Regions from separate parts of the Homo sapiens genome. Here region 2 is linked to region 1. A link means that fine-mapping ties the variant in region 1 to the expression of a gene that starts in the linked region. Tissue or cell type: blood mononuclear cells. Region 1 holds a variant in brackets; the other region holds the start of a gene. Each region is shown on its reference strand, or each on the opposite one. Region 1 overlaps ZC3H12A (zinc finger CCCH-type containing 12A). Region 2 holds the start of GSTA4 (glutathione S-transferase alpha 4).

The links. PIP is the estimated chance that this variant, and not a neighbour inherited with it, causes the effect.
Region 2: GSTA4 starts here. The variant in region 1 is the best candidate, but not a certain one, in a credible set for the expression of GSTA4 in blood mononuclear cells (TOPMed, PIP 0.67).

Annotation. Positions count from the first base shown.
Region 1 is chr1:37,476,030-37,478,935 of GRCh38, reverse strand. The region is part of intron 2 of ZC3H12A (zinc finger CCCH-type containing 12A); the gene reads right to left. Among named protein-coding and RNA genes, the nearest start is that of MIR6732, 2.7 kb to the left of the region's middle. RefSeq lists enhancers at 1-11, 1,402-1,701. The variant G/C (reference allele first, on the strand shown) is at 1,448.
Region 2 is chr6:52,994,173-52,997,078 of GRCh38, reverse strand. It overlaps GSTA4 (glutathione S-transferase alpha 4), which reads left to right and starts at 1,795. Exons shown (of 7, transcript NM_001512.4): 1 at 1,795-1,830; 2 at 2,818-2,906. The coding sequence starts at 2,836. It overlaps RN7SK (RNA component of 7SK nuclear ribonucleoprotein), which reads right to left and starts at 1,459; the gene lies at 1,128-1,459. RefSeq lists silencers at 1,222-1,311, 1,643-1,874 and an enhancer at 1,472-1,691.

The DNA of each region.
Region 1 (2,906 bases):
CTCTAAATTGTAGGGGAGACAAAGTCCAGCCCAGGGCAGCACTCATCCTTCCCGGTCCCTCTGCCACATCTGCCAGCCTGCTTATAATAAAAGTTCCCATTTGCTGAGAGCTGTGAACCAGGCCCTGTTATAAGTGTCTAACACTGAATCATCAGCAAGCTTGTGAGGAGGGCACTATACCATCATCAACTCCTTCCCTGTTTTTCAGATGAAAACTGTGGTCCAGAGAAGGCAGCTTAGTCACCAGGGTCACACAGCAGTTAACGGTGGAAGAGAGACGCAAGCCCAGGGCCTATGCTTATCACTACCCTGTACGTCAATGCTCAGGCAGGTACGAAGGCAGGCACAGACCCTGATCGCAGGGAATGAGCAGGGATTCGCAGGCACTGAGCTCCCGCTGGTGGCCAGATATATGGCTTCATTCTTATAGGGCTTGCTACCGTGAAGGAAAGGAAGGTCACCTGGCTAGTGGTAAGAGACAGTCAGAACTCGAACCCAGGTCTGGGCCACTCGGTTGCCTTCCTGTCTCTAACAGAAGATCCAGAATTTATTTGGGAGAACAAAGCTCCCAAAATTGAGTTTGAACAAAGTGTGTTATGAGAGACAGGTGGCGAACGGGAGAAACAATGCTGCTGGCAAACTCCTGCTCTTCCTTCAGAACCCTTGTGAGATGTCACTGCCTCTGAGAAGCCTTCCCTGACCTGCCACAATAGGTCAGGTCCCTGGTCTGTGTCTTCACAATGCCCAGTGCTTCCCCCATCACATCACCCCCCTTCCTTGGGCCTTCTGGCCTGCCTCTCAAAACCATGGCAGCTGGGTCATCCCAGGCCTGGCTCCTTGTCTCAGGTATGCAGTGTGCGCATGTATCCGCCCACCTGCCTCCCTCCGGGCACATGATCCTAGGCTAGTATCTTGGAGCACTGGGAACTAATGGGATGCCAGGGCTCTCAGGGCAGTGCACTGCCTGTGGGCACTGAAAATCTTGGCTGGGACAAGTCGGTTCTCAGCAGCCCTAGCACCTGAATATTCCCTCAGCAGATGGAAAAACTGATCAGTGGGCGCTATCAGAGCCCTCCTCCTGGTAGAGCACATGAGGCCTGGAGTGCCCCCCTACAGCTAGCTTTAGTCTCTTTCACTGCACTGGAGGAAGCGCTGCTGGCACAGGAAAACCAGACATCCCTGCCCCCATTCCAGTTCTCTTTGCCTGTAAGGTCAGGGTCCCCCAGCCGGGCTAAGCAGACACTGATAGGATGTGTGTGTAGAAGACTCCAGCTAGGCTGCTCCTGCCCCAGGACAGAAGGCAGGGCTGGGCCAGCCTCCCCAGGTGAAAAGATATGCCTGGGCTGGGCCTGGCGAGTGGAAAAAAATTCCCTTAGAAGGAAACAGAGGTGAATTTCCCCATGATTTGCATATGATGGGGGGGCTAGCCCGCCTGCCCCTGGGGAGG[G/C]GGGGTGGCCGGGCAGGAACCGAGTAGCAGCTGAGACAGGAAGTTTGAGGCTGGAATTCCCCTCCTGCCACTACCCCAGCTCAGAAACCCCCGAGGTGGGTGCGTGGCTCTGCTTCTCAGGAGCAGGCTCCTCTGAGCACCCCTCATCACAGCCCCTCCTCCCATGTCCCTCCTCCTTCTGGATACAAACACATACTGCATATGGCTGCTCCCAGGGCTCAGCCGCTCCTGGCCCATACCTCCAGAGGAAGGAGTCACACAGATCCAACCTAGCTCCTAGCCCAGCTACATGAGGCTGGACACTGAGAGGGACCCCTTCTAATCTCGAAGCATGGGCTGTGACCTGCTGCCTCTTGGCATGGAAACTGGATTTTCTCAGCCTCCCATCCAGGCTCAGCCCAAGTCAGAGAGAGGAAGACTGGCCTGAAGGTGACAGAAGGAGGGAAGAGCACTCAGCTGCATGCCTGCTGAGCTGGGCCAGGGCCAGCTGGACAGTGAACTTGTCCCACAGGGGCCACAAATTAGGGAGGGCAGAGGCTGATGTCATGCCAGCCTTGGGCAGCCCACCTAGGAGCTCCCTCAGGGCAGCCAGAAAATCATCCCTTCTCAACCCTGTGTCTGGGGTCTCCCCGTCCATGCCAACAGGAACTTTTCCCTGTGAGCCATCCACCCAGCACTGACTCATCAGCCTGCCTTGGAGGGAACTGGGAAAAAAGTGGGGCCAGAGGGTGGAGCCTGGATTGACGGGAGAAGTCTGGGTTTCCCAAGGTCAGCAGCAGCCCTGGCTTCCCTCTCTGCCCCTACCTCCCCACCCCATTCCTGTGCTGGGGGATGGGGGTGGGAGTCACTGGGGGCTGAGTCCTGGCTCTGGCCCCGGGGAACCTCCAGAGACTGGTCCAGCCCAGGCTGCTTCAGCTGAGTCAGTAGGGATCCAAGTTGCAGCTCGCCTGAGGCCAGAGCATCAGGCCACCTGCCCACAACCCATGTAAAGCTGGACCCAGCCTTGAGGTCACTCTTGGACACAGTCACTGGACCTGTTTTCGTGGGAGCCCAGGTCTGAGACAAGAAGGCCTCAGAAGCCCAGCCCCTGAAATAACAACAACAACTGCTACTACCACTGCCTACTACCACTACTATGGTTCCTGAACGCTTGCTCCTCTCCGGGATCCGCACACTCCCTCCTCACAACACCCACCTGAGATCAGGTTCCGAGGGGTGAGTGAGCAGCTGCCCACGGGCTGGTCCCCTTTACAGCCCTGCCTCACATTACAGGAGAGGAGTGGAGACACAGTGCTGGCCTCAGGGAGGGACCCACAGCATAAGGTAAGCTCTGCGGACAGAGGGACCTGGGCTGGAACCCTGCCTCTGTCACTTACCAGTAGCGCGACCCTAGCCTCATAAAAGGCTTTCCCTCCCTCTAGACCAGTCCCTAAGAAGGAAGTCACTTCTTCCAGCCCAC
Region 2 (2,906 bases), not on the chromosome of region 1:
CTTTGATCTGATTAGCAATTGCTTTACCACCTACCTCCTTAGTATTTCACCTTTTCTTACTCATATTCTTCAAACTCATGGTGCTACTTTAATTTACACAGACACAAGAGGTTTCTTTCTCTACCCCTACTACCCCAATTCATTCGCCTCACTTTGGCCAGAGAAACCTATTGAAAATAAAATCTGATCATGTTAGCGGCTGCAATTGTTCAGCACCCAGGCTTGTCAAGCAAGGTACTCTCGAGCGCCCCCGTGGGTGAAGAAAATAACAACATCTATAGCCTGAGAAATAGCAGAAGCTGCCTCTAAAAACAAAATTTATTTTCGAAGGCATATATTTCAAACTTTGAAATCCATGTGAATTTTGCAATTGTTCCATAATATAGCCCTGATAGTTTTAATATATTTTTAATGTTTTAACTAACTTGCCAGCCAAATTATTCTTTTAGCACCACCCCCAACTCCAAAGACCCCCTTCCAAACAGGTGCTGACTTGAGACCGTGACTATAGAGCACTTGTCTCTAAAATGTACAAAATGAAGAGAAATCTCAAGATGTCCCACTGAGATGAAGAAAGAAAGAAGAAAATATGTATGTTTGTATACATGTATACATGTATATATATGTATACACAAAATTAGAAAAGTTAGGGTCTACTGTATAAATTAAATAAGCGTTGACAGTGCTTTTGATTTTAATCTGTATGTGGTACTTTGCCTGCTTAACACCCTTATGTGGATTTCCTGACGGACTTGACATTCCTGTCAGGAAAGCATTGCGTACTTGCTGATTAAAAAGCATCTAAGGGCCGGGAGCGGTGGCTCACGCCTGCAATCCCAGCACGAGGCAGGAGGATCACCTGACGTCAGGAGTTCAAGACCACCCTGGTCAACATGGCGAAACCCCGTCTTTACTAAAAATAGAAAAATTAGCCGGGCATGGTGGCGCGCGCCTGTAATCCCAGCTACTCGGGAGGCTGAGTCAGGAGAATCGCTTGAACCCGGGAGGTGGAGGTTACAGTGAGCCGAGATCCGTCTCAAAAATAAAAAATAAATAATGAAAAAAATTAAAAATTTAAAAATTAAAAAACATTTAAAAAAGCATCTAACTTAGATGGGTAATGGGTCAAAAGAAAGGCAGACTGCCACATGCAGCGCCTCATTTGGATGTGTCTGGAGTCTTGGAAGCTTGACTACCCTACGTTCTCCTACAAATGGACCTTGAGAGCTTGTTTGGAGGTTCTAGCAGGGGAGCGCAGCTACTCGTATACCCTTGACCGAAGACCGGTCCTCCTCTATCGGGGATGGTCGTCCTCTTCGACCGAGCGCGCAGCTTCGGGAGGGACGCACATGGAGCGGTGAGGGAGGAAGGGGACACCCGCCTAGCCAGCCAGATCAGCCGAATCAACCCTGGCGATCAATGGGGTGACAGATGTCGCAGCCAGATCGCCCTCACATCCGAGGTACCCAAGCGGCGCACAAGCTATATAAACCTGAAGGAAGTCTCAACTTTACACTTAGGTCAAGTTGCTTATCGTACTAGAGCTTCAGCAGGAAATTTAACTAAAATCTAATTTAACCAGCATAGCAAATATCATTTATTCCCAAAATGCTAAAGTTTGAGATAAACGGACTTGATTTCCGGCTGTTTTGACACTATCCAGAATGCCTTGCAGATGGGTGGGGCATGCTAAATACTGCAGTCTCCATTGGTGAGGTCGTCCCGGAGCCTCGCCCAGCTCCCGCGCGCTAGAGCCGCCTGCTGGTCTCACCCAGCCGGGACCGCTGACCTGGCGCTTTGTGCGGCTCCAGGCCTCCGAGTGGACTCCAGGTCTGTCTCCCTCCTGCGGTCGCCCCCTTCCTCGCCCTTTCTCTCTTCTTTTTTTTCCCTCCCCTTTACTCTCTGAGTCTCACTCTCGCATTCTTCCCTCACTCCCCCAGTTCAGTCCTTCTCTTGTCTTTTCTTCCTCTTGTCCTTTGTCCTCCTGCTCCATCCAGTCTGGGCAGAGGTGGGCCCCTTGGCTGGAGCTGGGGTCCTTCTTGGCTCAGTGTGCGTATTTTTTTTTAAACCCCTTCTGCGGAGTCTGAATGCATTGGTGGAAGGTGGGCTCGGATCGTCCCCGGGCCTGGCTGGGCTGCCGCTACGCCCCTGCATGGGCTGAGCGGGGAAGACGAGCATGGGAGAGTGCGATCTCAGATGGCCAAGCCCTGGCCCCCGGCTCGTTTTACAAGGCCGGGGGCTCATCTCCCTGTAGGGGTGGTGGACACGCGGGACCCGGGGGGCGCAGCCACCGCATGCGTGACGGTGGACGCACATTTTGCAGACAGTAGTAGTACTCGGCCTGTTCACCTTCCAGTTGCCGTGATAATAAAATATGATGATGTATGTAAAAGCATGAATACTTGAAGAGCTTCCAGTGGCTGTGCGATTTTCCTTCGCTACCCTCTTCAACGCCTGCCACCCCCTATCCCCCAGCTGAATTTGGAAAATCTGAGATTCTCGAGGTCAAAATATATAATATTCTGAATTTGTGAAATCCCGTACTGCTAGCACATATGTTTTTACAACAAATGGCCCCAGCTTCCCAAGATCCAGGATAAGAAGTCATAAATAGAAATCATATAAAAGCCAAGGTTTTTTTCTCCATGTTTTAAAATGGTGGTTTTTTTTTCTTGAGTGAGGGAAAATGCAGCAACAAAAATAAAGAACAGTTTCCCGTGCCAAAATCCTGAATATTCATTTCGCCCCTGAGCACTGGGTTGAAGACGCGAAATTGGGACTGTTGGTCTGCGACGAGCTGCTGCATTTGTATTTCAGAAAGCCTGAAAAGCTATCATGGCAGCAAGGCCCAAGCTCCACTATCCCAACGGAAGAGGCCGGATGGAGTCCGTGAGATGGGTTTTAGC